Regions from separate parts of the Homo sapiens genome. Here region 1 is linked to region 2. Evidence: fine-mapped expression QTL. A gene starts in region 2. The other region holds a variant in brackets. All regions are shown on one strand. Distances are from middle to middle.

Region 1 (4,395 bases), 70 kb after region 2:
GCACTCCAAAAAGAAACTTTGTACCCATTAACAGCCACTTTCTTATCCCTATTCCCATAGCTCCCAGTCTTAGGTAACCACTAATCTACTTTCTGTTTCTGTCAGATTTGCCTGTTCTGAACACTTTATATAACTGGACAATGGAAATATGCTTTGGAAAACTTGAGTCAAAAGACCAACAATTCTCTTAAATACCTTGTATTTAACTTTTATATCTGTTTGCTTTTTACCATAGTTGGTTGGCATGTTATTTTAATGTTGGAAAATCATCAGATTTGCCAGATAACATCTTTGAAAAATTGCTAGGATTTGGGCACTATAATTAGTATCTAGCATATGGTTTTACACTTAGTATAATGTTTGGAGGGCTTATCATGTAGTCGTGTGTAGCACTTTTTATATATCTTAATGAGTTGCTTTTACTTTTCAACTATTATGAACAATGCTGCTATGAATTCAGCTATTATGAACAATGTTGCTAGTTTGTATACAACTGTTTGTATGGACATATATTTTCATTTCTCTTGGGTGGATACCTAGAAATGGGATTGCTGGGTCATTTGAGGAATTGCCAGACTGTTTCTAAAGTGGTAATACCATTTTACACTCCCGCTAGGAATGTTTTAGGGTTCTATTTTCTCCACATCCTTGCCAATGCTTGTTATTGTTTGTCTTTTTTACATATTCTTCCAAATATATTAGCTAATTTGTTTTTACTTTTTCTTCTATCCAGCCTTGCTTACATGATTCATCACTTTATTATCATTTCAGCATCCTCAACTTTTGTCTTTTCGAACTGTCCACTAAAAATTATAATTATTGGTGAATCGAATTATATGCTGGAAAAAATAACATAAAAGTTCCATTTGATAATACTACATATTTATTCCATATAAATTCAGCTGGTTTTTTAAAAAAAATATTTTAGATTTGGGGGTAAATGTGCATGTTTGTTAGCTGGGTATATTGCATACTGGTGGGGATTGGGCTTCTATTGTAACATTACCCAAATGGTGAACGTTGTACCTAATAGGTAGTTTTTCAACCCTTATCCCCACCCCCTTTTGGAGTCCACAGTCCTAGTGTTTCCATGTTTATGTTCATGTGTATCCACTGATAAGTGAGAACATGTTGTATTTGATTGTCTGTTTATAAGTGAGAACTTATAAGTGAGAACATGTGGTATTTGATTGTCTGTTCCAAATTAGTTCACTTAGGATAATGGTCTCCAGTTCCATCCATGTTGCTGTAAAGAACATAATTTCATTCTATTTATGGCTGTGGAGTATTCCATGGTGTATATGTACCATATTTTCTTCACCCAGTCAACTGTTGATGGACTCTTAGGTTGGTTCTATGACTTTGCTATTGTGAATAGTACCATGATGAACATATGAGTTCAGGTGTCTTTTTTATGTAATGATTTTTTTTTTCCTTTGGATATATATCCAGTAGTAGGATTGCTGGGTTGAATGGTAGTTATATTTTAATACTGTTTGGTAACGAATAACATTTTCCTAGTTAGCACCTTCTTATCTCTTTCTTTTCAATAGTTATTCAAAGCTTTCTCTTTATTCCTTGTATTCCTCAAATCACCTTATCTTACTTCCTACTTCTCAGTAAATAATCTTGTCATTTATCTCAGAAAATAGAAGCACTTAATTATAAGTTATAAATTTCTACAAACTTACTCACATCTTCCATCATTTTTGCCTTTTCCCAGTCCTAGAGGAAGCAGCAGTCCATCCTATTACCCAAATCTTCATTTATTCTATATACTTGGAATATTGCTCAATTTTCTTTTTCTCTTTTTCTCTTTCCTTTCTGGATCTCAAAAGTGTATTTTTTCTCTTTTTCTCTTTCCTTTCTAGATCTCAATAGTGTATTTTTTTCTCTTTTTCTCTTTCCTTTCTGGATCTCAGTGGTATATTTTTGGGGTTGGGGAGGGTCACCTTTCTTTCATATATGAAAGAACCCATGGATCTCATTTGAACATGAATCCATCCCTAATTCCTATTCTATATCTCTCTTTCCTTTCATAGCCAAAATTCTTCTATCTCCAGTTACTCACCTTCCATCCACTCCTATAACTCCCTGCAATCTGGGTTTTCCCTTACCTTTCCATTGATACTATTTTCAATAAGATAACTAATGATTTTGTCTTTTCATTGTCTAATAGGCTCAACTTATTTAACTAATCTGCAGGCTTTAATATGATTGACATTGTTCTCCTTACACATTTTTCTTTTTTTTTTTTTTTTTGAGATGGAATCTCACTCTGTCACCCAGGCTGGAGTGCAGTGGCATGATCTCAGCTCACTGGTTGAAACGATTCTTCTGCCTCAGCCTCCCAAGTAGCTGGGATTACAGGCATGTGCCACCACACCTGGTTAATTTTTGTATTTTATTTTTTAGTAGAGACAGGGTTTCTCCATGGTGGCTAGGCTGGTGTTGAACTGCTGACCTCAAGTGATCTGCATGCCTCGGCTT[C/G]TTAAAGTGCTAAGATTACAGGCAGGAGCCACTGCGCCTGGCCACATTTTTCTTGTTCCTTTGTTTTCCATTATGTCTTCTGTTTGCCTCTGTACTTCAAAATTGCCTTTGCAAGCACTTCATCCTCTGTCTATCCCTAAAAATGGTGTTACTGTGGGTTCTGATGTCAACCCTCTACATCTACTCTTTCTGGGCAATTTCATTTATACTCAGGTTGTAAATTTTTTGAGGGCAAGGTTCATGTTTTTTCATCTTTCTTTCTGTGTAATAATACCTGACACCTACTAGTCATAAATAATATTGTTGAATAAATGAATGAATTTAGATAATATCGTCCAAATGTTATCAGTCATTGAAAAATAATGCTTGTGGCTGGGCATGGTGGCTTGAACCTGTAATCCCAGTACTTTGGGAGGCTGAGGCAGGTGGATCTTTTGAGGCCAGGAGTTTGAGACCAGCCTGGGCAACATGGTGAAACCCTGTCTCTACTAAAAATACAAAAATGAGCCGGGCATGGTGGCGCGTGCCTGTAATCCCAGCTACTCAGGAGGCTGAGGCAGGAGAATCGCTTGAACCCAGGAGGCAGAGGTTATAGTGACCTGAGATCGTACCACTGCACTCCAGCCTGGGCAACAGAGTGTGAGACCCTGTCTTAAAAAAAAAAAAAAAGAAAGAAAGAAAGAAAAAAAAAGAAATATCGCTTATAATTCCACCTTTCAGAGATAATCCTAGATCTTATGTTAGTGTATTTTTTCAGTCTTTTCTCTACCTAGTATCTGAATTTCTTACTATTTTAATTATTTGAAAACCTACTGTCTTTTATATTTATTATATATATGTAGAAACCTTTCAACGAAGTCTAAAAATAGGAAGCTTCCAGAACCACCAGACAATGAGGATGAAGATGAAGATGTCAAAGCTGAAAGACTAAAGGTCAAAGAGCTGATGGGTTGCCAGTGTTGTGAGGAGGTAATTTATTCTTTATGGCTAAGTCATAGTAAATATGAAATGATCAATTCCCGGTATATAGAAATTAATCTGAAAAATATTTTTCTTTGCATATGAAGCAATCTGAAAAAAATCTTTCTTGGAAAAAAATACTTCGTTTACTTACTTTTGAATAAGCCAGAATTTCAGTCATAAATGGATATTTATTTGTACAGTATCCCCTTATTAGCCAATATAATTTTTGTAATATGGATATGAGGTATGTGCAGCCTGTCATTTCATGATAAGTTTTATAACTTTCTTTTTAAATACAATTTTTCTTATTAGAAACCATCCATTATGGTCAGCAATTTGCATAAAGAATATGATGACAAGAAAGATTTTCTTCTTTCAAGAAAAGTAAAGAAAGTGGCAACTAAATACATCTCTTTCTGTGTGAAAAAAGGCTGGTATTTAATTTTTCCTTACATAACTTTTCTAGAAGAGTAATTTCTACTTTTAGTATGATTTGATTATGATTTTTTTTTCTTTCAATTCCTTTAGGAGAGATCTTAGGACTATTGGGTCCAAATGGTGCTGGCAAAAGCACAATTATTAATATTCTGGTTGGTGATATTGAACCAACTTCAGGCCAGGTATGATATATAAGAGTATAGGATATGTTGAATGTGATTTATATTGTTAATTAACATAAACTTTTAGTGACAAATTCGGATTTTATATTCAATTTTTATGTATATTTTTAGAATTTTTTGTACAGCCTGATCAAATTATGATCTTTTGGGTTATCTGTAAAAATAATGTGCATGGTGAAATTTTCATAGACACATGTAGACACACGCATATACAGTATTTCTGCTTTTGTAATGCTTACATGCGTGAGTTATTTGTCTACCAACTTAATGGAAGACAGTTTTATTAGCTTCAGGAGATATGGGAGCTTGTTTTGACCTGCCA
Region 2 (4,395 bases):
TATTATATGTGTTTTCTCATTGGAAGCATTAATAATATTTACTGTATACTATGATGCATAGGACTTGGAAATTTAAATCGGTATAAGAAGAAGCTTTCGCCTGGGTGCTATGGCTCAGGCCCGTAATCCCAGTACTTTTGGAGGCCAAGGACAGAGAATCACTTGAGCCCAGGAGCTTGATACCAGCCTAGGCAACATGGAAAAACCCTGTCTCTACAACAAAATACAAAAACTAGCCTGTGTGGTGGCATGCACCTGTAGTCCCAGCTACTTAGGAGGCTGAGATGGAAGGATCACTTGGACCTGGGAGGTAGAGGTTGCAGTGAGCTGTGATCATGGCACTGCACTCCAGCCTGGGTGACAGAGCAAAACTTTGTCACAAAAATAAAGAAAGAAAGAAAAGAAAAGAAAAAGACAAGTCAAGAAAAAGCTCTTAACCTAAGACTATTTACAATTTAATTGAAGAGATGGTAAGTAAATAAAATGATGTGAACAAGATGGTAGTATGTAGGCAATTGGGAGGAGAGTGAGATCATTTTGTCCAGGGTGATGAGATTTTTGGAGAATTGGGTTTTGGTCATGTCATTTAGAAACAAGAGTAAAAGCATGAGCAGACAGAATGAATGACAGAGAACATTACAAGGATAAGAAATGTAAGAAATAAATGCCTAGAATAGTAGTAGAAATGAGTAGACTTCTGAAGTTAAGGCAGGTTAAGGCTACTAGTGAGAAGTGTTGGGGTGAAAGTATGGTTCAGTAACATGTTAACCAAGTTTATCTTTCATGTATATTTCTTTACTTGGCCCCAAATCCTAGGCCATTGAGAATTTGTAACTAAAATGTTCTAGATGTTTCCAAAAGAGACAGAATATATCAGGGATAGTTTTCATTACATGCCTTCTTTAGTTTCCTGGTGTAGTTTTTTGAATATACTTATCTCCCTTTCCCCCATCCCCATTGCTAGATCTTTTAATCCAGGGGTCCCCAATCCCCAGGCCAGAGACTGCTACCGGGATCTGTGGCCTGCGAGGAACCAAGCAGCACAGCAGGAGGTGAGCGGAGGGCAAGTGAGTGCAGCTTTATCTGTATTTACAGGGGCCCCCCATGGCTGGCATTAGGGCCTGAACTCCGTTTCCTGTCAGATCAGCAGTGGCATTAGATTGTGATAGGAGCGAGAACCCTATTGTGAACTGCGCATGTGAGGGATTTAGGTTGCGTGCTCCTTATGAGAATCTAATGCCTGATGATCTGTCACTGTCTCCCATCACCCCCAGATGAGACTGTCTAGTTGCAAGAAAACAAGCTCATGGCTCCCACTGATTCTACATTATGGTGAGTTGTATAATTATTTCATTACATATTACAGTGTAGTAACAGTAGAAATAAAGTGCACAGTAAATATAATGTGCTTGAATCATCCCCAAACCATCCTCCCTCCCCCAGAAAAAACTGTCTTCCATGAAACTGGTCCCTGGTGCCCAAAAGGTTGGGGACCGCTGTTTTAATCATCAAGGATTCTGACGAACCTCTTTGAATTTTCTATTTAATTCATATTCCATAAGTAAAACTTGATTCCTTGTTTGTTTGTTTTTCCCCTAAGAATTTAGAAAGCAGAGTGCATGTTGGGGAGACCTGGTTTAAATTCGAGAAGCAGATAACACAAAGACAAGTAAAAAAAAAAAACATGATGTACACAGGATTGACAGAATAAAAAAAAAGTCTTTGTGCAAGGGAATGTGACTATACAGAAATGTGGAGAGGAAAATACGTAATGTTAGTGTTAATAACTTTTGACCCCATTTAGGTCACTTTGAGTAATGAAGCTCAAAACACTAGATTATATTTTTAGCAAAGTAAGTGCAGTATCCAGTCTCTCACAGATGTCATGTGTCTCAGGCCGTTTGGAAAATTCAGCATCTGCCGCATTCCCAGTCTTTGATGAGGACACTCCGCGAACTACAAGCACCCTCAGTGGGAGGACCTCCCAGGTCGGGGTGTGAGGGCCAATGAGGAGGCTGGGGAGGGGAGGCAAGAGTTACGGAAACGGGGCCACAGCACTCCAGATGCCGCGGCGGGAGGAAGCGGGGCTGCAGAGGACTCAAAACGCGTTCAGAGAGGCCCATCCAAATGCCAGGAGACAGACGGCAAGGATGCTTAAGAGGAGACGTGACTGGGCGAGGCAGATGAGGAGAGGGCCGTGGGCCAAGGTCACCCGCTAAGAGGCGGCAGGTTTACCACTGAGACACGAGGCCGTGGTTTTTGCCCGTGCCTCCAGAAAGAGCGTGGCGAGATCCCCGCAGAACCCAGGCGTGGGAGGCCCTGGGGAAGAGCCACGAGGCCCGACTCTAGTGGCTCAGGGGCCCTGGGCAGCGGCGCGCCACCGCTCGCCCCACCCTCAGCCGCTCTCCTCTTCCGGGCGCGCTGCTTGCCTGCGTGCGCCGGGACGCGCGGGGCCGAGCGTCTGAAGCGCGCCCGTACGCGGAGCGGCGCTTTCTAGGAGCCCCGCCCTCAGGTGCGCTCTGCAGGAGGCGGGGCGCGACTTCGGCGCCGCCAGCTCTGCCTGCGCCAGGAGCGCGCGGGTGCGCGCGGCCGCGCCCTCGCACAGATCCCAGCTGGGTCACCCGCACTGAGTCAACAGACTGAGCGCGTCCAGGCCTGACAGCTCTGCGGCTCGGGCCCTGAGGTGAGGCGGGCGTCGCGGGCGGCGGCGGCGCTTGAGGCTAGCCTGGGACAGCCGTCCCTGGGGGAGTTGAGGGGACGAGGAGGGGCTGGCCAGCGAGGGACGGCGGGGAGAGAAGGGGAGTTCGGCGTCTGAGGTGTGGGGTGAAGCGGGCTCGGAAGCGGGCAGAGGCGGCGAGCTGAGGGAAACAGACCTCCCTCAGCTCCCGGGAAGCGCGGGTTGCCAGCCTCGGGGATGCGGTGGGAGCGCCCAGGATGCGGACGTGAGGGGGTCGGGGCCCTGCGGCGGGGGCTCCGCGAGGCTCCCCTGGGACCGGGTCCGGCCGTGGGACTTCGGGACACTGCCTTTGCCTGGACGCTGTCGTTCCACCCTCAGCAACCTCAGGGAAAGAAGGAAAACAAATATTGATGTAAATTTCCGTCTGAACAGCTGGGTAATGAGCGCTTGCTCTTCCCTGCGAGGTTACGCGCGGATCATTACCTTGCGTGTTAAAAGGAGTTTCAGTGAGAAGAAAATGCGCAGATCTCATGACACAGTTTGGGAGGGAAATTCCCTGATCCTAAAACACGAATAGGAGCTCCAGGCATGGAAATACTTAATTGGATCGGAAAGCTGGGCAGGCTGGAGCTATTAAGCTGAAGGAGGTTTTCCCCTGGGCTCCTCAGGCTTCGATTTACGTTTTAAATAAATAAGTCCGAAAATAATGAAGATAATAACCACGTTTACTTTCTACAAGGGCGTTCTGAAGGAATCTAAGGGAAGAGGAGTATTTGCTGGACTACAGCTTTAAGCCAGGCTCGGTATTAGCTCTTTTCATTCTGACAGCAACCCTGTAGGATTGGAGGGGGTTATTCCAGTTGGGCAGGTGTGGAGAATGGGCCTCAAAGAGGTTAAGTAACTTATTAAGGTCTCAGCTAGTAAAAGGATGGAGTTGAGATTCCAACCCGGGCTGCCAGACCCTAATTCTGGTGCTTTATTTAGTATATTTTGTGTTTGCCGGGAGAGCAATATTGTATGTGTTTTAGGGAAGACTCCATAGTAGGGAACATTATTAGGGCAGTTAGGGCTTTGTGGGTATTTGTGTTAAAATCAAACTAAAGAGGCGTTAATCTTTGCATATGTGCTGTTTGAGTATATTTCCTTTCAAACAGATTTAGTGTAGGGAAATCTTACATTCACTATAAGAGCAAATTTATTAGTACATTCCATGTGTATTGCATGTCTTTTATTTTTAAAGAGACAGCGTCTCGGGCTAGAGTGCAGTGGTGCGATCAAAGTTCACTGCAGCCTTGAACGTCTGGACTCTAGGGACCCTGCTGAATAGCTGGGGCTACAGGCGTGTGTCACTGCGCCCAGGTAATTTTTTATTTGTTTTTCAGAGACGAAGTCTTGCTATATTGCCCAGGCTGGTTTGTTGCATGTCTTTTACATTCCAGATACCATACTATGTGCCAAGAGTACCGATATGAATACAATTTATAATCTCTGTCCTTGAGTTTAGTTGAGAGGGTGATTGCATAAAAGAATTTTATGATATTGTACTAAGTCATAACTTTTCTAGTATGTAAATTAGTTGGATTAAAAATAGTTTTAAGGGCAAGCTTTTAAGGACCTATTATGCATAAGAAAATTTATTGGATGACTTGTCCTCTGTGTACCATTGCATTGTTATTTTCTCCCTCAGCAAGAAACACTGTGATAAAATTTAGGTTAAA

What was found. PIP is the estimated chance that this variant, and not a neighbour inherited with it, causes the effect. A credible set is the group of variants that fine-mapping cannot tell apart.
Region 1: its variant is the best candidate, but not a certain one, in a credible set for the expression of ABCA5 in whole blood (TOPMed, PIP 0.54).

What each region holds. Positions count from the first base shown.
Region 1 is chr17:69,255,221-69,259,615 of GRCh38, reverse strand. ABCA5 (ATP binding cassette subfamily A member 5) reads left to right here. Exons shown (of 39, transcript NM_172232.4): 29 at 3,333-3,459; 30 at 3,766-3,883; 31 at 3,982-4,073. Among named protein-coding and RNA genes, the nearest start is that of PRO1804, 22 kb to the right of the region's middle. The variant C/G (reference allele first, on the strand shown) is at 2,491.
Region 2 is chr17:69,325,340-69,329,734 of GRCh38, reverse strand. ABCA5 (ATP binding cassette subfamily A member 5) reads left to right here and starts at 2,602. Exons shown (of 39, transcript NM_172232.4): 1 at 2,602-2,683. RefSeq lists an enhancer at 2,096-2,235 and silencers at 2,316-2,695, 2,826-2,915.